Linked DNA regions of Homo sapiens. The protein of the gene in region 2 interacts with the protein of the main gene of each other region in a biochemical or structural test. Each region holds a gene or a part of one and is shown on either strand. Other genes may lie near its edges.

Region 1 (7,725 bases), on a different chromosome or scaffold from region 2:
ACATTGTTATCTTATTTTACTTTCTTAGTAATGCATAACTTCTTTCACACCTTTTAAATGTTTATCTTTTCCATTATGTAAGAATTCAGAGAGGCCGGGCCCGGTGGCTCACGTCTGTAATCCCAGCACTTTGGGAGGCTGAGACGGGCGGATCACGAGGTCAGGAGATCAAGACCATCCTGGCTAACACAGTGAAACCCCGTCTCTACTGAAAATACAAAAAATTAGCCGGGCGTGGTGGCGGGCGCCTGTAGTCCCAGCTACTCGGGAAGCTCAGGCAGGGGAATGGCGTGAACCCGGGAGGCGGAGCTTGCAGTGAGCCGAGATTGCGCCACTGCACTCCAGCTGGGCAACAGAGTAAGACTCCGTCTCAAAAAAAAAAAAAAAAAAAAAAAAAAAGATGCAGACGGGCACGGTGGCTCACGCCTGTAATCCCAATACTTTGGGAGGCCCAGGCAGGCGGATCACCAGGTCAGGAGTTCAAGACCAGCCTAGCCAGCACGGTAAAATCCCATCTCTACTAAAAATACAAAAAATTAGCCAAGCTTGGTGCCGCGCGCCTGTAATCCCAGCTACTCGGGAGGCTGAGGCAGGAGAATCACTTGAACCCAGGAGGCAGAGGTTGCAGTGAGCCGAGATCGCGCAACTCCACTCCAGCCTGGGCAATAGAGTGAGACTCTGCCTCAAAAAAAAAAAAAAAAATGCAATAAAGTTCTTTTTTTTTTTTTTTGAGACACAGTCTCGCTCTGTCGCCCAGGCTGGAGTGCAGTGGCGCCATCTCGGCTCACTGCACATCCGCCTCCCGGGTTCACGCCATTCTCCTGCCTCAGCCTCCCGATTAGCTGGGACTACAGGCGCCCGCCACCACGCCCGGCTAATTTTTGGATTTTTAGTAGAGAAAGGGTTTCCCCGTGTTAGCCAGGATGGTCTCGATCTCCTGACCTCGTGATCCGCCCGCCTCGGCCTCCCAAAGTGCTGGGATTACAGGTGTGAGCCACCGCGCCCGGCCCTTCTTTTTTTTGAACAGAGTCTCGCTCTGTTGCCCAGGCTGGAAAGCAATGGCGCGATCTCAGCTCACTGCAACGATGCCTCCCGCGTTCAAGCAATTCTCCCGCCTCAGCCTCCTGAGTAGCTGGGATTACAGGCGCCCTCCGCCACGCCCGAATAATTTTTTGTATTTTTAGTAGTGACGGGGGTTTCACCACTTTGGCCAGGCTGGCCCTGAACTCCTGTCCTAAGGTGATCCGCCAGCCTCGGCCTCCCGAAGTGCTGGGATTACAGGCGTGAGCCAGCGCGCCCGGCCTCAGTGCTTTTCCAGCACATAATTTTTATGAGTATCCTGTAGTATCATTAGAACTTCTCCATTTACTGCAAGCTAACTCCCCCTGAGCATCTAGAACTTTAATACTTGTCCAAACCTGCTTGCTCATGGTCTAATAATAAACCCAATTATACAATCTGTAAGAACCCCTGACAACCTTTTCCTTAAGAAGCCATAAAGGTGATTTAACGAACACCTCAAACTCTTAGTAAATGTATTTCAAAAACAGATTTCATCACTCCAGTCTTTGGCTTCTGCTGAGGGCTAGAGGCTACTGGTTTTAGAGTGGGTAGGGGGAAGATCGCTTGAACTGAGAATGACACACGCCGGGTGTTGTACAGCAGGGGTAAGTGCTGGTTCATTTCTCTTTAAATCTGGCAGCACGTGGGGCTGCATTGTGAAGCCACCAACCCGCCTCCCCCCTTCCACTCCGCACACGGACGTCTCCACTGCGCATGCTCCGCGCACACAGTCCTAGCAGAGTAGGAGCCAACCCCCTAAAAAGTCAACCTGGAAGCCGCAAACGGCCGGAGGCCGGGACAATGGGGGAGGGGGGCCGCAGGCTCCTCGGGGAGGCCGACCCGGCCGCCGCCCCGGGCCAGAGCCTGCGGGCGCAGCTCCGGGGTTTGCAGGCCTGCGCAGCAGCCGGAATCGCGGCGAGCACAAAGCCCGGAGCCGGCCAGCGAGCGGCTCTCCCCGCGGCCCGCTCCTACCCTCCCCCAGCCGGGCGGCGCAGCCGGAGCCCGTGCCAGGCGGAGGCAGGCGAGGCGGCGATCCGCACTCCGCCAGGGTCTCCGGCACCCTCGCGCCCGCGTGGAGGCCGCCGAGGCCAGCGCTTTTGTTGTCGGCCCCAACTCCGCGGACCCAGCGCCGCCCGGGGAGAAGTTTTGTGCGCCTCACCTATCCCGCCAGGGCCGGTCCCTTCCGCCCGCCCTCAGACACCGAGCCGGGGACTCGCAGCCGCACTGGGTCCGGACGCTCCAGCCGGCCCCGAAGGTCCGGCGGCCCCGGCAGCACCTGAACCCGGGACCCGCCCCTCCAAGCTGGCGGCCCCGGCCTGGGGACCCGCACACAGCCCCTCCCCCGCAACGTCCTACAGAACGGTGGGGGAGGGGACCTCCTCCTCTCCGACCCCCCGGGCGCCAGGCCCAGTCCCTGGGCCGGAGCTGGGTCGCGTCCCCGCCCCCAGTGCCCTCCAAGAGCCGGGCGAGAACGGCTGGGCCCGGCCGGGACCGGAGCCTCGAGGTCCCCACCCTCGCAGGCCCGGGCCCCTTCGGCAGTACGGCCGCTGGCCCGGGAGGAGAAGAGGGACTGGGCTGCGGCTGTCCGCGATCGCGGCCGGGCCCGGCGCCCCGCCGCCCGCCTGCTCACCTGCCAGCTGTCTTCGCAGTAGCAGTGCCGACTGCAGCTCCGTCATCCTCCCTGCCGAGGGCCCGGGCTGGCGCCGGGGCTTCCGAAGGGCTGGGGACAGGCTCTGGGGGCGGCTGGAGCGGGGTGTGCCGAGGAACCCGGGCCCCGCGACCGGAGCGCCGGAGCCGAGGAAGGCCGGGCTGAGGCGGCGGGAGCGGCGCCTCGCTGCCGGTGCGAGTCCGCTCGCTTCAGCTCTTTTCACAGCGACTCACGCCCGGAAGGGGAGGGTGCCCGGGCTGCCGCGGCGCGCACTGGGACTTCGCTCGCCCGCTTCCCTCCTTCAACCCGCCCGTCGGCCCCACCGGTGCCTTCCCCCGCCACTGCCTCACTGCGCGCAGGGCCGCTCGGCGCAGGCGCGCTGAGACTGCCGACTTGGGAAGCGTCCCGCCCGCTAGCCCGACCCCTCGGCCTCCCGCCCCGCCCCCGGCGGCGGAACCCCGCCCCTTGAGCGCAGTTGTCCCGTCCGCCGCCATTTTGGGAAGGTCGACGCCCGGCTGCCAGCCCAAGCCTCCGCTGGTAGACGCCCCGCGGACGCCATGACAAAGAGGTCGCAGAGGGTCAAATACAGCCTCTGGATTGAAGCAGTGGATATAGGAGCGAAGAGGCCAGAAGAAGTGGTAGATGTCTAGTCCTTGGCGAGCGCCCAAAAGCCATCTAACACTGCCACATGGTGTGCGAAGTAGGAATTGTTAGAAAGCCGAAGTTAGTACTGGTGTGCCCCATTTTAACCAAACATCAAAATAGAGGCAATATATGATGATAACTCACTTTACATGAAGAGTGCACAAAAAAAGCCACCGCGTCCGGCCCTATTATTATTGAGCCACCGAGACCGGCCCTGTTATTATTATCATTTATGGACGGCAATTCTCTCTGTCGCCCAGGCTGGAGTGCAGTGATCATAGCTCACTGCAGCTTGGAACTCCTGGGCTTAAGGGATCCTCCCATCTGAGTCTCCTTAGTATCTGGGATTACAGGTACACACCACCATGCCCTGCTATTTTTTTATTTGCTTTATAGAGATCGGGGGGTTTGACGGGGCGCGGTGGCTCATGCTTGTAATCCCAGCACTTTGAGAGGCCGAGGTGGGCAGATCACCTGAGGTCACGAGTTCGAGACCATCCTGGCCAACATGGTGAAACCTGGTCTCTACTAAAAATACAAAAATTAGCCCAGCCTGGTGGCAGGCGCCTGTACTCCCAGCTACCAGGGAGGCTGAGAAAGGAGAATTGCTTGAACCTAGGAGGCAGAGATTGCAGTGAGCCGAGATGGTGCCACTGCACTCCAGCATGGCCGACAGAGAGAGACTCCGTCTCACAAAAAAAAAAAAAAAGGAGGGGGGGGCCAGAGGTCTCTCTGTGTTGCCCAGGCTGGTCTCAAACTCCTGGGTTCAAGCAGTCCTTCCAACTCGGCCTCCCAAAGTGTTAGCATTACAAGTGTGAACCACTGCCCCCTATCAAATAGACCAAAGGGACCATTTTGATATTTCACTTTACCAAATCAAGGAAATTTACTTCTATTCCTAGTTTCTTTCTTTTTTATTTTATTTATTTATTTATTTATTTTTTGAGACAGCCTTGTTCTGTCGCCCAGGCTGGAGTGCAGTGGCGTGATCTTGGCCCACTGCAACCTCTGCCTCTCAGGTTCCCGAGTTAAAGCAATTCTCCTGCCTCAGACTCCTGAGTAGCTGGGACTACAGGCGCACGCCTCCAGGCCAGGCTAATTTTCTTTCGTATTTTAGTAGAGATGGGGTTTTACCATGTTGCCCAGGCTGGTCTCGAACTCCTGAACTCAGGCAATCCGCCTGCCTCAGCCTCCCAAAATGCTAGGATTATAGGCAAGGGCCACTGTGCCCGGCCTATTCCTAGTTTCTTAAGATTTATTTTTTGTAAAAAAAAAAAAAAAAAAGATTTATTTTTTGTAATAATTTCCAAATCTGGTGAAAGATCAGGGCTGGATAAAGGTTTAGAAATTGAACCTAATCCTTAAACAGTGGGAGGCCCCTGAAAAGTTTTAACTAGGAGTAGAAAAATAGCAGACTTGCATTTTGAATGTTTTGCTGTGGCTGCAGAGAATTGATGAGGGAGGGAGGGTCAAGACCAGTGCCCTGCAGGCTGTGGTGGCTCTCATCTGTAATCCCAGCTCTTTGGAAACTCCACGCAGGAGGATCACTTGAGGCCAGGAGCTAGAGACTAGCCTGGGTGACAGAGCAAGACCCTATCGCTACAAAAAAGTGTGTTTTGTTTTGTTTTGAAACAGTCTCCCTCTGTCGCCCAGGCTGGAGTACAGTGGCACAATCTCAGGTCACTGCACCTCTGCCTCCCTGGTTCAAGTGATTCTCGTGCCTCAGCCTCCTGAGTGGCAGGGATTACAGGCCTGTGCCACCATGGCTGGAGAATTTTTGTATTTTCGGTAGAGACAGAGTTTCACCATGTTGGCCAGGCTGGTCTTGAACTCCTGGGCTCAAGTGATCCACCCGCCTCAGCCTCCTAAAGTGATGGAATTGCAGGCATGAGCCACTATGCCCAGCCCAAAATATTTTTTTAATAAACATTTTAAAATTTTAATAAAAATTTTTAAAGCCTGGAGACCCTTATGGAGATTGTGGCAGTAACTAAGACTTGGATTAAGGAGTGTCCATAAAATATTTAGGCCTTGGTGGCCAGGCGAGGTGGCTCACGTCTGTAATCCCCGCACTTTGGGAGGCCGAGGCGGGCAGATCACCTGAGGTCAGGAGTTCGAGGCCAGCCTGACCAACATGGAGAAACCCCGTCTCTATTAAAAATACAAAATTAGGGCCTAGGGCAGTGGTTCACTCCTATAATCCCAGCACTTTGGGAGGCCAAGGCAGGTGGATCACGAGGTCAGGAGGTCAAGACCAGCCTCACCAACATAGTGAAACCCCGTCTCTACTAAAAATACAAAAATTAGCTGGGCGTGGTGGCCAGCTAATAGTAGTCCCAGCTGCTTGGGAGGCTGAGGCAAGAGAATCGCTTGAACCCAGAAGGCAGAGGTTGCAGTGAGCCGAGATCGCACCACTGCACTCCAGCCTGGGCGACAGAGCAAGACTCTGTCTCAAAAAAAAAAAAAAAAAAAAAGGCGAAATTAGCCGGGCGTGATGGTGCATGCCTGTAATCCCAGCTACTTGGGAGGCCGAAGCAGGAGAATTGCTTGAATCCGGGAAGGGGAGGTTGCTGTGAGCTGAGATTGTGCCATTGCACTCCAGCCTGGGCAACAAGAGTGAAACTCCGTCTCAAAAAAAACAAAAAACGAAAAAACAAAGAATATGTAGGCCTTGGTGATCTATGGGATATAGGAAAGAGCAGGGAGCACCACAGGTGACTCTCCTGACCCGGGTGACTGGGTGCCATTGGTATGACAGACCAAGTCCAAGGAGTGGGTCTCGCTTTGTTGGTTAGGCTGGTCTCAAACTGGTCTCAAGCGATCCTCCCGCCTTGGCCTCCCAGAGTGCTGGGATTACACGCGTGAGCCACTGCACCTGGGCCCTCTTGCTTTTGAGGTTAATGCCATCCAGCTGCAGCACTTGCCACTCCCCTTTGGTGCTGTGACCTGCAGACCCATTCATCATGGACTTTTCCTCCTGCCTCAGAGCCCTTCTCTTCATTCTACTCCAGCCCTCCACCTTGGGGACCTAATTACCCACATGAATGACCCGTCCGGTACCCCTGCCTCTCACCACTTGACTTCCTCTCCTTCCCTTCCCACCAGCTGGCCTCTCCGTGTTCCCGTGGGACAGTCTCGCCACCCAAAATTCCACCACACCCCAGTACTTGGTTTCAAGCCACGCACCCTGACCACCATTCCTTATCCTTCCAGCTTACTGGCTTTAGCGTTCACGCCACACAGCTCTTCCACACCAACAAGACCCCATTCTGTGTACCACTTTTTTTTTTCTTTTCTTTTTAAAACAGAGTCTCGCTCTGTCAACCAGGCTGGAGTGCAGTGGTGCGATCTCGGCTCACTGCAGCCTCCGCCTCCCGGGTTCAAGTGATTCTCCTGCCTCAGCCTCCCGAGTAGCTGGGACTATAGGCGCGTGCCACCATGCCTGGCTCTTTTTTTTTGTATTATTGGTAGAGATGGGGTTTCACCATGTTAGCAAGGATGGTCTCAATCTCCTGACCTCGTGATCTGCCCACCTCGGCCTCCCAAAGTGCTGGGATTAGAGGTATGAGCCACCGCGTCCAGCCCTGTTTACCACTTTTTTACTATCTGTCATTTCCTTCCTGTTCTCCTCTTCCTTCTCTTCTGAGCTTAGAGAGTAGTCCATTACTACAACCCTTCTCTTCATACGCCCTCAACAAACTTGGCTGTTTGTCTCCTTCTCTCACCATTTTAGTGCCTGGCTGATCCTCAAGCCTGAATGAACGCTTGCACACCCAACTGTCTAACTATTGCTTTATTTAACAAACATTTACTGAGCAACTGCTATGAGCTAGACACAATCCTAGGACTCAAGGTCTAGGTGTAAACTACACTGACCAGGTTCCTACCTCATGACAGTAACATCTAATGGGACAGAATAGTCAAAAAGTAAACAACAGCCAGGCGTGGTGGCTCACGCCTATAATCCCAGCAATTTGGAAGGCCGAGGTGAGTGGATCACCTGAGGTCAGGAGTTGGAGACCAACCTGGCCAACATGGAGAAACCCTGTCTCTACTAAAAATATAAAAATCAGCCGAGCATGGTGGCACATGCCTTTAATTCCAGCTACTCGGGAGGCTGAGGCACAAGAATCACTTGAACCCGGGAGGCAGAGCTTGCAGTGAGCTGAGATCAGAGTGAGACTCCATCTCAAAAAAAAAAAGAAGTAAACAACTATTAAGGTCAACATTTGTTCAGGCCTGGTAGCTCACGACTGTAGTACCAACACTTAGGGAGGTCGAGGCAGTCAGATCTCTTGAGCCCAAGATTTCGAGACCAACCTAAGCAACAAGGTGAGGCCGCATCTCTACAGAAAATTTAAAAACTGTCC
Region 2 (7,194 bases):
ACACATGTGGTAGTGGCAAAGAATCTAATTTGTGTCACAAGATCTGAGTCTGAGTAAGCTCTTTTACCTATTAATTATGTGATCTTTTTGCTGGTTACATAGCTACTCTTAGCTTCACATTCTTCATATGAAAAAATGAGGACAACAGAACTAATACTGCAGCATAATGAGGAAGCTTAAATATTTTTATTCATTCAACAAATATGTTCTGAAAGGCGTTGTGTACAAATTACCCTTTTTTATTTCTTCAAATAAATCAAGCATATATTAACTTTTAATATTACCAAGAAAATATAAATCTAATTCTTAAGCTCTGGTTCCAAAACTTCTTAGAAGTAAATTTTTATTACCTGAGAAAATGTGAACTTAAGTAATAAGTATTGATACTGAAGAAGGGACAGTTGAGTTTGTGTCAAAACTTAAAACTGTTTTGACACAAAATAAATAAAAACAATTCCCTAAATTTTTTTCCTATTGAACAGAAATACGGACCCAGACTAAGCCCATAAATTGCTGGGTCAATAACCAATCTGAAATACAAAACCTTACCACTTAAAAATATTTATTTTCAGGAAAATGATATTAAATATGAGGTAAATCTGCCCTTGACATAACACGGTGAGATTGTTTTCATAACACAGCACATGAACCACTTAAAACTTACAACCTATAAATTACTACAATTGTTCTAATAGGTTTAGGGCCATACATAAATTTAAGTATCATTATAACACAGACTTTACTTGGAATCTGTGCTGACCTAACAAAATTAGCACAGAAAAAAAAAAAAAATCACAGATTTGAGCACCTGAAAAACGGTGTCCTTTCTGAAATATCTGCAAAAAAGTCACAACATCAGGAGCCATAGAAAGTTGTTATTTCTCCATCATTCAAAAAATCAAAACATCTCCAACATTATTTATGCTAAGCATAAAATGAAGGTCAGTATTGATATTCATTCACTATACTTCAAATCCTAAACAAGAAAATTCAACCTTTATGTTTATTCAATTGCTAATCTATTCAGTGTCAATTGTTGTGGAAGAACTAAGAACTAGACTAGTGCTGCTTATAATGTTTTTAATTAGAACAGACTTGGACCAATTCTACTTAGAAATTTACCCTTAGAAGAGGTGAAAGATATTAACTGGCATCTTTTCAGCACAGGTCAGTGCTGAAAAGAACACAACCTATAACCCTTAGGCCTTGCAGTTGAATGTTAACAAGTGAAAAGCAATCTCCTTGGATGTATCCAAGCGATTTTAATATAAATTTCTGCATACCTAGGTAGAAAGTACTTTAGAAATAAATCTACCTTTTCCCTCACTTGTAAGAAAATGTGGTAGAAGCCTTGAAAAATTAAGTTTAAGGCTGAGCGAGGTGGCTCACGCCTGTAATCCAAGCACTTTGGGAGGCGGAGGAGGGCAGATGACTTGAGGTCAGGAGTTCCAGACCAGCCTGGCCAACATGGTGAAACCCCGTCTCTACTAAAAATACAAAAATCAGCCGGGCATGGTGGCGGGCGCCTGTAATCCCAGCTACTCCGGATGGTGAGGCAGGAGAATCGCTTGAATCCGGGAGGTGGAGGCTGTAGTGAGCCGAGATTGTGCCACTGCAATCCAGCCTGGGTGACAGAGCAAGACTCCGTCGCAAAACAAAACAAAAACGAAATCAAATTTCAAACTCAGAGAAAAGACTGGTCTTGAACAATTTCAGGAAAAATTACTGAAACACGAGACAAGGCACAAGAAGCTCTATGGCCGGAGATGAACCACCTGTCTCCTTTCGAAGTGCTTCCTGAGGTCCACTTTATGCTAGTTAATGTTGCTTCTTATACTGCATGTTAGTAATTCAAAACGCCTAGCTGGAATAAAAGTCCTCTTTAAACATTACAGTTTGTCTCCGCGTTGCCAGTGTTTGTTTCCAGTTTCATAGGCTATTCTGGTATGTCAAGAGTTGTGTTATTACTGTTCCAAAAGAGCCCTTGTTTCAATCCACTCTCACCTGGGATGCGGGCATAACTGATGTTTATAGAACTGATACTTAGAGATGTTTAGAGAGGCGCATCCCTTACCACTCCATCCTTTACCGATAACCACATTTTATATGTTTTTGTTGCATTTAAGTTTTTTGTTTTTTTTTTTTAAAGACACCTGCACACACACAATTTTCCCATCGCCAGCAGGGAGAAGACTACCAGGCTAGATCTCCAGGGACTTCAGGGAAACAGACACCGTGAAATCCACTTGGCCAAAGAAGGGGAGCGCTTCAGGGGCTGGGGGAGGAAGCAGCCCTGAGGTGCTGGGAGGCCGAGGCGGCGCCTGTTTACAGACGCCTTCGCCCTCCCCCACCCCCACAGACTAGGGGTCCAAAAAGCAGTTCCCGTGCGCATTCCCCGCCTGGCCCAGGCCCTGGGAGTACCACAGGAGCCAGGTAGCCCTTTCGCCCCCTCCCTCTCGTCCGAGCCTCCCTTCGTCCTCCTCTCGGCCTACCTACCCCGACAGGCCCTACAGGCGGCATGCAGAGGCCTGAGGCCTAAAGGACGCCGGCCACTGACAAGCCCCAGAACAGCCGGCGGGGGCCCTGAGGAGCCTGGGGCCGGCCGGGCTGCCGCTGCCGCGGAGGAGCAGAGGGCGGGCGAGGACAAACCCTTCCCGACCACAGCTGCCTATTGTTCCCGACTGAGGCCCCGGCCGCGGCAGCCCCGCTCCCCAAGTCGCCGCCCGCCGCTCGCTCACCGCGCTGGTCCGAGCAGCAGCTCCTCTCAGCTCCGAGTCCCCGCGGCCGTCGCCACCGCCGCGGCAGCCGCCGCCGCCGCCGAGGCCACCGTTGACTCTGATTCTGTCCCAGGCCGCCGGGCCACGGCTGCCGCCGCCACCGCCAGCACCGCCTCCGGCCTCCCACCTGCTGCTGCTGAGGCTGCTCCTGCAGCAGGGGCCATCTTGTTGCTCGGCCTCCTCTTCCTCCTCCTCGTCCTCCGCCGCCCAGTCGCTCGTTGTCCTCGTCCCCTTCCTCTTCCTCAGGCTCCGGCCCGCCCCGGAGACTGGGGCGGAGACGAGGGCGAGGATCCTCCCTCAGGAGGCGGGGCGGGCGGAGGGGAGGGGCGGGCGCGGGAGCAAAGCTCTGAGTCACCGGCCACCAACGCCCGGAGGGAGACCGGCGACGCTCTCCGCCGCGACCGAAAGTCTCACACGCCCTGAGCAGATGAACCGGTCCCTCGGTCCGGTCTGCCCTCCCGCACCGGCGCCTTTGGGCTCAGCGGGCCAGTGGCCAGATGGCGAGAGTAAATTGGGGGAATTTCTTTCGTTTCCATCGAACCCCACACTACGTCTACTCTTTCGGCTTTCTCAGCCGTTGTCCCCCAACTCTTGTTTCTTTTTCACGTCTTGTCCCCCACCCCATTTTTCTTCTTCCATATTATCCAGGTTCTGGATCTCATCAGCTTTGTCCTCGTCACCCCTCTGGGAGTTCAGCCTCCTAAGGCTGTGAAACAGCCCAAAAGGCCCGGACACGCTACTCCAAAACGTCTCTCCTGGGCTGTGTGAACAATAAGAGCTATTTGGGGACGACAGGAAAAGATATGGCCCATAGAAGGGCTCCTGAAATCTAACCTTGCGACTCTTTAAAAGTTTCTTGTCCCTTGTGGAAAAGGTGCCGTTTTGGTTTTGGGGAATGGGAGGTCCCTTCAGACAATTCATTTTAGCCAAACCCTCGCTTTTGAGAAGGGGAAGAAATGGGATTATTGTAACACCATACAGTACTAATTTCAAAATAAATCATCTAGAATAGAGGAGAGAGAGAGTCCCCAAATAAACAACCATTTAATACCTCTACTCGGCGCTATCACCTTTTTTGCTTCAGGATTTGACCAAGAGAGCAGAGATTATGTTTTTCTGTCCTTTCTTCACTGTTTACATCACAGTACCCCAAGAGAAGCACTTCTGCCTTTAACTTGATACATTGGAATCGCTATCACAGATAGTGTTTTTGTATTATTTTTAAGAAATATCACACACCTTCCTAAACTCTTGGCAGAGAAGAATTCTTTTTAGTTGTTAGCACCCTCCTGCTACTGAGATCTCAGCTTCTGTTTAGAAGACCTATTGTTGTCTTTCCACTGATTGGAATTTGCTGCCTCTGAACTGGGTTTAATCTGTAATCGTCTTTTCAGCCTACTAAATAGTAACCCCAGTCCTACAGAGAGTGAATTTCTAGCTACCACAGGGGGATTTAGGTTAGCATGTGCCAATCTAAAGGGATCTCTTAAAGCCTTTCCCTTCTCAGACCAGGCCTCTGTACCCTGCTAGGAAAAACAGATTAATCTGCTCCTCCTGCTTTTCCTCCTCCTCCCTTCTTCTCACTCCTAGGGAACCTTCCACAACAGAAGGTTTTAGCGACTGTTGCTAGGCAAACATGCCAACTTCCTTGTTTAGGTGAAGCGAGTAACTCAACTTCCATTGCAAGTAACCTAGATAATGTAATTTCTTTGAACTATTAATAGTTATACCACAGTTGGTAAGGCTCCTTAAAGGTTCCCTTAAGCAGTATGATTTTTACGTTGTTTATTTTTATCTCGTCAATATTTCAATTAAAAATACGTTAAAGGACAGATAGATGCAGTGGCTCACGCCTGTAATCCCAACATTTTAGGAGGCTGAGGGGGGCGGATCACCTGAGGTCCGGAGCCTGACCAACGTGGAGAAACCCCATCTCTACTAAAAATACAAAAATTAGCCAGGTGTGGTGGCGTGCACCTATAGTCCTAGCTACTCGGGAGGCTGAGGCAGGAGAATCACTTGAACCTGGGAGGTGGAGGTTGTAGTGAGCCGAGATCACGCCATTGCACTCCAGTCTGGGCAAAAAGAGCTAAACTCTGTCTCAAAAAAAAAAAAAAAAAAAAAAAAAAAGTTAAAAATGGCGGCGCTTCCCCAAACCCAAATTCATTTTAGTGATATAAAGATGCATTTGACAGAAAAAGAAGAGCAGCTTTGAAGAAAACACTTATGCTTACAATAAAAAATAAAAAACTAATCTGTGAGAAGTCATATGTTTTCAACTCCCCAGTCAGACTAGAAGTGTAAGATACAGGGGATAAGGCCGGGAGCGGTGGCTCACGCTTGTAATCCCAGCACTTTGGGAGGCCGAGGCAGGCAGATCACGAGGTCAGGAGATGCAGACTATTCTGGCCAACATGGTGAAACCCCGTCTCTACCAAAAATACAAAAAGCCCGGCGTGGTGGCGCGCGCCTATAGTCCCAGCTACTCAGGAGACAGAGGCAGGAGAATCACTTGAACCTGAGAGGCAGAGGCTGCAGTGAGCCAAGATTGTACCACTGCACTCCAGCCTGGATGACAGCAAGACTCGGTCTTGGCAGAGCATTGTGGCCCACGCCTGTAATCCCAGCACTTTGGGAGGCTGAGGAGGGTGGCTCTCCTAAGGTCAGGAGTTCAAGACCAGCTTGGCCAACATGGTGAAACCCCGTCTCTACTAAAAATACAAAAAAATTAGCTGGGCGTGGTGGCAGGCACCTGTAATCCCATCTACTAGGGAGGCTGAGGCAGGAGAATCCTTTGAACCTGGGAGGCGGAGGTTGCAGTGAGCCGAGATCGTGCCATTGCACTCCAGCCTGGGCAACAAGAATGAAACTCCGTCTCAAAAAAAACACCAAAAATTAGCTGGGCATGGTGGTGCACGCTTGTAATCCCAGCTACTTGGGAGGCTGAGACAGGAGAATCGCTTGAACCTGGTAGGTGGAGGTTACAGTGAGCCGAGATCACGCCACTGCACTCCAGCCTGGCGACAGAGCAAGACTCCATCTCAAAAAAGAAAAAAAGAAAAAAAAAAGATACAGAGGATAATTTATCTCTTGAAATTGAGTCTATTTAAAATAAAGATAATATGAATATTCAGCAAGGGGGAAAAAAGATATTCTGGGTTTTATTCCTAAATTAACAATTATTTGAAAATTTAGCTAGGGAAATAAGCTTTTTTTAAAAATTTTATTTAAAATGTTTTTACTCTTGTTAGAGTATTGAGATTTGTTGTGAATTAATACAAATAAGATTAAATGAGGCTGAGCATGGCAGCTCATGCCTGTAATCCTAGCATTTTAGGAGGCTGAGGCAGGAGGATTGCTTGAGGCCAAGAGTTCAAGACCACCTGGCCAACATAGAAGACCTTGTCTCCATTTAATTAAAAAAAAATTTTTATAAAAGATTAATGACGCCAGGCAAGGTGGCTCACATCTGTAATCCCAGAACTTTGGGAGGCCGAGGCAGGCGGATCACCTGAGGCCAGGAGTTCGAGCCCAGCCTGGCCAACATGGCAAAGCCCCATCTCTACTAAAAATACAAAAATTGGCTGGATATGGTGGTACATGCCTGTAATCTCAGCTACTCAGGAGGCTGAGGCAGGAGAATTGCTTGAACCCGGGAGACGGAGGTTGCAGTGAGCCGAGATCACGCCACTGCACTCCAGCCTGGGTGACAGAGCAAGACTCTGTCTCAAAAAAAAAAAGATTAATGAGACACTATGTTGAAATTTAAATTATATAGATTTAAACTTCAGAACTCTTAAAATTTGTTTTAATCCACTGAAACTCATATTAATACACTGAAATAGTGTTTGAGAAGTGTCTTGAGCTTAGATTATATGTTAATTAAGAGTATATTACTTAAGATAAACAGCTTATATGTTTCATAGCCATTTGTGCTCAGAAATCACTATTTTGCTCACACCTGTAATCTCAGCACTTTGGGAGGCTGAGGTGGGCGGATCGCTTTGAGCTCAGTTGTTCCAGACCAGCCTGAGCAACACGGCAAAACCCCATCTCTACAAAAAGTACAAAAATTACCTGGGTATTGGTGGCTCATGCCTGTAGTCCCAGCTACTCAGCTACTCAGAAGGTTGAGGTGGAAAAATCAATTGAGCCTGGGAAGCAGAGGTTATAGCAAATGGAAATCATGCCACTGCGCTCCAGCCTGGGCTACGGAGTGGGAGCCTGTCTCACAAAAAAAAAAAAAAAAAAAAAAAAAATCACTATTTTGTAGCTTCAAGACAACTTAAACAAATTGTTTTATCTCATATTTTGTTAATAATTCTGATGTGCAATACCCATAAATTTAGACTCTGCCCTGGCTTCCACTACTGATACACTATGAAAATCAAATGAGTCATTTCATATAAAATATCAG
Region 3 (7,744 bases), on a different chromosome or scaffold from region 2:
GTCAGGGAAGCTCGTGGGCTGCTGAGTGAGAGGAAGGGCCTGGCAACCAAGGGCCACTATTTGATGTGCTGCAATCCTGGCCAAGGCAGGAGGAAGTCACCCGTCATAACATGGGGATTCTGAGGATCTGTGGTGGGCTTTTCACAGTTCCACCCTCTAAGACATATGTAGATATCACACATTGCAGAACCAAAGGAAGTGGGAAGGTGGTGTAGCCAAATGCTGAAAGCAGTGACCATAAAAAACTAAGTTCAGCCCTTACAGGAACTCAAAGGCTTCACAGCTGTTTCCTGGCAACCGGAGGCACAGATTAATCAAGAGCCTCACTCTAAACCTGACTAAGGAAGGCCTCTGGGCCCTGACCACACCTGGAAGACTTCTCAGGGTTAGAAAGCAGAGAGGCCTGTACACTCATTTTAGTTTACCCCAAGTAAGGTCTGCTTTACTCTTAGCACCCTGCACTCTTTTCACTGCCTAGGGACGAAGGTCAGATCTTATCATACTCCTCTTTTTAAGACTCTTATTCATTCATTCAACAAATATTTACTGAATGCCTACTTCATACCAGACACTTGTTTGATGGCTTCCCCTCATACCATCTCAAATCCAAAGCCATGTCTCTCCAACTCATCTCCTTAACAAGCCTTGCTTGCACATGAAGGCCTTTTATCCTGTTATTTCAACATGCCAAGCAGAGTCCCACCACAGGGCCTTTGCACTAACAGCCCACTCTCTCTCCTGCCTGTGACACTGTAGGGTTAGCTCTTTCCATTATTTGACTCAGCTGAAATGTCACTTTCCTGACCACCTCTCCAGACACTATCACATCACACAATTTCCTCCATAGCACTTACTGCTATCTGAAATTGTCTTATTTACTCCTTAACAGCCTTCTCTCCCTGACTTGAATGGAAGCTCCCGAAGGATACAGACTATGTCCATTTTGTTTGCTATCCACGATGGGACATAATAGGCCCTCAGTAAATATCTGTTGAATAAACAGACAAAAGAATTTTGGGAAGTCCATTTTAGGGCACCTCAAAGCCTGTCCTATGTTATCTAAACCATGCCAAGTGCTCTTGTATTCCACTAGACAGCAGCTGACATTTTATCTGATCACCATAGCCATTTATGAAGCACTCACTTTTTAACTGTCAGGGTCTGGAGAAGTTAGAACCGGGCAGCTGTTAACCCAGATTGTAGGTAGCCAACCGAGTGACTGCAAGCAGGGCTGAGCTGCAACAGCACCTTATTGCTGGCTACCACCAGCACACTGGGCCCCTTCGTTTATTACGACCCGGTAGGAGTGTTATTCTGGTGAGAAGTTTTACCCAGCAGTCTGGCCTGACTCAGAATCTCTCTTCTGGGAGTGCCTGGGGCAGCGTCATGGTAAATGAATTGACTCAGCACTGTTCCAGCTGAAACCAAAATCGAGTAAAAGGATTCATGGTCTCCGCTATTCTGCAAGAAGACCCCACTGTTTTAAACTCAAAAGGCAGCAGCTTGTGGTGGGTCACTTCAGTCAGATCCCCCACATTCAATTTCTTTTATTCCCACCCCAACCATCAGGCAAGTATGGCTCCTTGAGACCGCAGAGTAGCAACATTTATAAAGAATTCCCCTCACCCTATTTCCCATGGATCACCAATTCCTTCCCAACACTGCCGCTGCTGTGGCCTTAAATATGCCAATGATTGCTGTACTCAGGCTGGTGTCCCTGCAGCCCCACAGTGGGGAACACTGTGGCCCTGTTTGCTTCCTCCATCAGAGAGGTAACCCATTTTCACCCCATCTGAGAGAACCTCCTTGGCCAACTTCACTGCCAGGCACCTGAGGGTGCAGCCTCACCCAAGAGTTCCCATTTCATCTATTCACCTCCCTACTCCCATCAGCCAGTGGGGAACTTCTGAGCTGAACCCACATATCTGTCCCAATTATTAAAGGAGTCGATGAGAGTGAGCGTCTCCACAGAAGAGACACTTCTAGGATATGCTTCCCTCACTCAATTCAAAAAGAGGAGACTTTTCTCCTTTACAGGAAACATCTCCGGAACCCGACCTTTTCCACTCCCTCATTTCAGGGGCTTCCCTCAGTTGAATCCCCACTCCCAAAGAGACATCCTCGGGGCTCCCAATTCATCTGTTCTCCCTCATCCAATATCAGAGGCTTCCACCAACTGCCCCACTCGGACCTTGTCCCCTGAAACCTAACTTGAAGCAATCCATCTGTATCCTCGAACAGGAGACTGGTAATGATGGGGTCATTTCACTATCACCGCTATTAGGTCCCTCTGGCATCTGAATCCTTTTCCCTCCTCTCACTTATCATGCGGAGACCCCCTTCATTCTCCCCAAAAGCAGCTGCTCCAAGGCTCCTCCTTTCTAGTCAACATAGCTATTTCCTCAGCTAACCCCATCTCTAAAACTAACGCCGGAGCCGTTCCCTCAACCGATAGGGGATCCTCTCAAGTCACCCCCTCAGGATCCCGTTTCTTCCATCCAGCCTGAAGGGCTTCTCTGATGTCCCCTCCAGACATCCCAAGGCCCCTCTCAGCCGCACCCCTGGCACCCAGTATGGGACTTCCATCCGCTGTGGGGCGCCTCCTCTAGGGGACCTCTAGATCGCCCCTTAAGAGTCGCCAGCCCCGGTATCCTCAGGAGTGCCTCGGAGCTCGCTCCTCGCCCACTCCGGCTCCCCCAGACAGCACAGAGGGCCCTCACGCCTCCCGGGGGAGCCTCAGGGCCTCGCCGCGCCGCCCACAGGCCCCTCAGCCCCCCGCCCGTGCTTCCGGCCACCGCCTGCTCCTCCTCCCCCGGTCAGGCCGCGCCGGTGGCTGCCGCGGAGCCCAGCAGACAGAGGCGGCGCGGGGACCCTGGCTCCGCTGCAGGAGGCTTTGAGGGTCCCCGGCCCCCGGCCCAAGCCCATGCCCCCTCGGCCGGCCGGGCCCGGCGCCCCCGCTCACCCGAGCCCGTGGTGGCTGCCATCTTGCGTCGCTCTTGCTTGAAGGCCGGCCCCTTCTTCACCCCCCCCTTACCCGTCCCCCGGCCCTGATGCGCAGGCGCGCGCGCACGCACATACGCCGCCGCTGACGCCCGCCCCGGAGACCTGCACGACCCGTGGCCTGGAAGGCTCTTTTCCTTCCCTTTTAGAGAAAGGAAATATCTGCGTGCTCGAGGGCCCAGCAACCTGCAAGTCCCCACACATCGGGTGCGAGGGAGGTTGTGATGTGCTTAGTGAGAAGGGCAGGGGTGACTAGGCTTGGGAAGGCGCGATTGTGAAAGAAAAAGAAAATATAGCTTCAAACAAAAGCGCCGAATTCGCTTGGGGCTTTTTCCTGTCTAGTTCCTATCTAGATCCTCACCACATCTCCGCAAGGTCAGAATTAATGTGAAAAATGCAGCCGAGAGAGATCAAGCGATTTATCTAAACTCAGCTGTTAAGTGGCAGAGACAGGCAGAATTTTAACCTCCAGGTTCAAATTTTTTGAATCATCACCCTCCAGGTCAGATGATCTGGCTCCTAGGATTGATGCTCCCCGGCCAGAGAAGGCTTGGAGTGGGTGCAGCTAAATGATTTAGGGGCATTAAGGTGGCAGGGAAAGCATTTGCTAACCATCTACCCAATTCATTCATTCATTCATTCATTCATTCGTTCATTCATTCATTCAACCAAACAAACAAACATTAAGCACCTACTATGTACCAGACACTGTGCTAGGCGCTGGGGATGGATAGACATCTCTGAAGAAGCAAATCCCTGCTTTCAGGGACTTACATTCTAGTCGTAGACAGCAAGTAAATAAACAGGAAACTATAATTCTGATAGGGTAGAGATAAACCAAGACAAGAGCAGCAGAGGATGGTCAGGAAGGGCCTCCTAAGGTGGTCATATTTCAGCAGAGACCGTAACAATGAGGAGGTAGAGGGAACAGCTTGTGCAAAGGCCCTTGGGAAATATTTTTGCAAATAAATAAACCCAAGAAGGTACTCCTCCTTTATTATAAATTGTCTGAGAAGCCCTTATATGGATGTAGACACTGAGGCTGAGAGAGGTGAAGGGACTGGCTTAAGGTCACAGAGCAAAATACTGGCAGAAGGACCAGGACTCTAAACATAGAGGGACAAGGAAGCTGGAAGCCCTCACCCAGCACATCCAATTCATCACCTTTGTCTGATAGCAGTGCCTACTCTGCATCTCTCCACTCCGTTCACTTCTCCACTCAGGGCAAGCTGCCTTTATCTCCCACTTGGAAGACCCCAGCAGCTTCCATTCTCTCCCCTATGGCCCATTCTCCATATAGACCAACATCTGCTCAAAACACCCTCCAGCTAAAGCCTTCAGTGGCTCCCCATTCCCTCTGGATAAAATACAAACTTTACAAGTTGAGCGACCATAGAATTATCACCTAATGAGGACACACATCAGATTAAAAGGGGACTTATTATAATCTCACCAGGACAAGTGGAAACCAGGGCTCTCCAGGGCAAAGCAGGATGCCTGGACACCCTGTGCACCAGGCTCTGCACCCAGGGCAGGGACGAGGATGGGGTGGTCAGATTTAACGGGGCTTTCACTCAGGTCCTGACTCCGCACTTGCACAGCGCTGCAGGTGAGTGACTCCTTAAAATCTGCACCCTAGGGCAGGGCATGGTGGCTCACACCTGTAATCCCAGCACTTTGGGAGGCCGAGGTGGGCAGATCACCTGAGGTCAGGAGTTCCAGACCAGCCTGGTCAACATGGTGAAACCTCGTCTCTACTAAAAATACAAAAATTAGCGGGGCGTGGTAGCACACACCTGTAATCCCAGCTACTCGGGAGGCTGAGGCAGGAAAATCGAGCGAACCCGGGAGGCAGAGGTTGCAGTGAGCTGAGATTGCACCATTGCATTCCAGCCTGGGCAACAGAGAGAGATTCAGTCTCAAAAAAAAAAAAAAAATCTGCACCCTAGGTACCCCACTTGCCTCACCATAGCCTTGGCACAGCCTGCGCCTCTGAGACTTTCTGTACCTCTGCGGCGACACTGGCCCTTTGCAAGCCCCCTGGAACACATGCCCTCTCCCACTTCAGGGGCTTTGCCTGTGCTGTTCCCACTCTTCAGTTCTCAGATCCAGCACCATCCCCTCAGGGAAGCCTTCCTCGATTCCTCCAACCACATCAAATTCAGCTATAATTAGCTCTCAAAGTGCCAGCACTGGCTACAGGTGAAGCAACTTGACTTTTCGTGTATCACGTGATACAAGTTTGCTTTGGGGAGCACAGAAAATACTTGCCCTGGACTTGGGGTCACTGTAAAGCATCAGTAGCAAGTGGAAGCATTTGGGTTCCTAAGGTGGACTCACCTTTGCAGTGAAATTTTCTAGGTTCAAGTCTTCCTTCATCACTCAGTTTGCTTTGTGACTTCAGGTAAGACGCTTGAACCTCTCCTGGCATCAGTTTCCCCTTCTATGAGGATAGTAGTATCAACCTCATAGGATTGCTGTGGAGATAAAATGCTTTCCTAAAACCCCTTGGGCACAGGGAAGAGGAAGGGACACTAGAAGAGCTCATAATTACCAAGCCGTTACATCCAACTTTTAATCCTCACAACTCGATGCAGCAACTCCTGTGAATATCCCCATTTTTAGAGATGAGAAAACTGAGACTCAGAGCTAACAGGTGGAGAGGATGAGGATTAAAACACAAGCCTTTTATCTATGGTGCCCGTAAATGTTTACTCGCATGGATTCCTTGGCTCTTGTAGGAAACTTCTTGCAAGTAAAATTGACAATAATAATTCCCGTGCCGAGCTCATCGCAGGAAGAGGTTAGGCGGGACAGCCCGAGGCATGCTGGTTGTTGTAGTCTAGCGTTGGCGCAGTGCCTGATGGGAGTTGTAGTACGTCCCGCGCACACGCTCCCTCGAAGAGTTTCTGCCCCATTCCTGGACGTCACAGCCGGTCCCCAGAGCAGGATTCCTTCCGGCGCCTGCGCCTGATCACCGCTCTGCGCTTGAGCTGATAAACTCAGCTGATGGGATAAGAGTCTTGTTTTATCGGATTTTGGGGAAGATTAAAATGGTTAATAGAACTAGAGAATTTAGAAGAGGGCTTGGCACTAAGTGCAATATAAGTATTAGCTGCTATTATTACCTAATCCTCAATGAACCTTGCAAAGTAGCTGTTACCATTTCCATTTGTGAGATGAGAAAACTGAGACTTAGAGGAGTTAGATGGCTTTTCCAAGGTCACACAACAAGGAAGGAGTAAAATCAGTTTTGGAATCCAGTTCTCTTTACCCTGTGTCACCCGCTGGCTCTCCCGTGATGAGGGAGGTGGAGCCTGGGAGGTTTTGAGCTAAATGTGGGCAGGTTTGCCTTTTTACAAAGTGCATCGTGCTGCCATGAGGAGACAGGGCGAGGACACCCAATTGGGCAGCAGCAATATTGGTAGCAGGGAACCCAGAGAGAAGGTGTATTGGGCATGTTTACCGCCATTCCAGTCGCCATGGCCCCACATGGCAAGGTGGGTGTTTGGAAACTTTCCCTCCCCTCATAAAAGCTGAAGAGAAGGTTGGGCGCCCTGGTTCACACCTGTAATCCCAACACTTTGGGAGGCCGAGGCGGGCGGATCACCTGAGGTCAAGATTTCGAGACCACCCTGGCCACAATGGCAAAACCCCGTCTCTACTGAAAATACAAAAATTAGCCGAGCTTGGTGGCTCAGGCCTGTAATACCAGCTACCCGGGAGGCTGAGGCACGAGAATCGCTTGAACCTGGGAGGCAGAGGTTGCAGTGAGCCAAGATCGTGCCATTGCACTCCAGTCTGAGCGACAGAGCGAGACTGTCTCAAACAAAAAAGCTGAAGAAAAAGCCTATTTTTGTCCCCTTTCCTCCTTCCTACAATATGAGGTTGTAATGGTTAGAATTAGAATCCTGGGTGATGTGGCTGAGCTGCTGAAGGAATTGCAGGGCTGCCCAACTGCAGACATCTGAAGACATGAGATAATGTGCCTGTTGCTTAAGTTGTTCTTAAAGGTAGGTTTTTGTTACCTACCACCAAAAAGCATACCTAATAGATACAGGAAGCTGACGCAGTGGTTCGGTTGAGAGGCATGTAGACCTGACAGATCCACAATGTCCATTCGTGAACTCTCTTTTCAAGTGGGAAAACACTAGGGCTGGTTTGGAATCTCTGGGATGTAAAAGGCATGAGTAGTTTGAAAAAGTATATTCAAAAGGTGAAAAAACAAAAATTATATAATGTTATCCACAACCTTCAATTTCCTATTTATAGTTAAGGAACCCCCCCAACCTCGTGCTACAGTTTTTGTAGCATAAGCTGCAGAAAGTAAAGCTGACAAACTGTCGACAGGAAGGACTGTGGACTTGCAGAAGACAGAGAGGAGAAGGGATGTGTGGTTAACAGAGTGTGTGATGAGGCCGGGCATGGTGGCTCACACCTGTAATCCCAGCACTTAGGGAGGCCAAGGCCGGTGGATCACCTGAGGTCAGGAATTCGAGACCAGCCTGGCCAACATGGTGAAACCCCATCTCTACTGAAAATAGAAAAATTAGCCGAGCATGGTGGCTCATGCCTGTAATCCCAGCTACCCGGGAGGCTGAGGCAGGAGAATCACTTGAACCTGGGAGGCAGAGGTTGCTGCAGCATTGCACTCCAGGTTGGGCAACAAAGCGAAACTCCATCTAAAAACAAACAAACAAACAAACAAACAAACAAACAGGATGTGTGATGCATTTGCTAGTGA

Evidence for each region.
Region 1: the proteins of RC3H1 (region 2) and UBE2G1 form a complex in vitro, tested with the Homo sapiens proteins (one study listed by BioGRID).
Region 3: the proteins of RC3H1 (region 2) and UBE2V1 form a complex in vitro, tested with the Homo sapiens proteins (one study listed by BioGRID).

The regions. Positions count from the first base shown.
Region 1 is NC_000017.11:4,363,579-4,371,303, forward strand, and holds the start of UBE2G1 (ubiquitin-conjugating enzyme E2 G1), read right to left. Parts: upstream 3,098-7,725; 5' UTR 2,739-3,097; coding exon 2,693-2,738; intron 1-2,692. UniProt on the Homo sapiens protein: Accepts ubiquitin from the E1 complex and catalyzes its covalent attachment to other proteins. In vitro catalyzes 'Lys-48'-, as well as 'Lys-63'-linked polyubiquitination. May be involved in degradation of muscle-specific proteins.
Region 2 is NC_000001.11:174,019,358-174,026,551, forward strand, and holds the start of RC3H1 (roquin-1), read right to left. Parts: upstream 3,001-7,194; 5' UTR 2,739-3,000; intron 1-2,738. UniProt on the Homo sapiens protein: Post-transcriptional repressor of mRNAs containing a conserved stem loop motif, called constitutive decay element (CDE), which is often located in the 3'-UTR, as in HMGXB3, ICOS, IER3, NFKBID, NFKBIZ, PPP1R10, TNF, TNFRSF4 and in many more mRNAs.
Region 3 is NC_000020.11:50,110,145-50,117,888, forward strand, and holds the start of UBE2V1 (ubiquitin-conjugating enzyme E2 variant 1), read right to left. Parts: upstream 3,007-7,744; 5' UTR 2,985-3,006; coding exon 2,963-2,984; intron 1,419-2,962; exon of another isoform or gene 1,145-1,418; intron 1-1,144. UniProt on the Homo sapiens protein: Has no ubiquitin ligase activity on its own. The UBE2V1-UBE2N heterodimer catalyzes the synthesis of non-canonical poly-ubiquitin chains that are linked through Lys-63.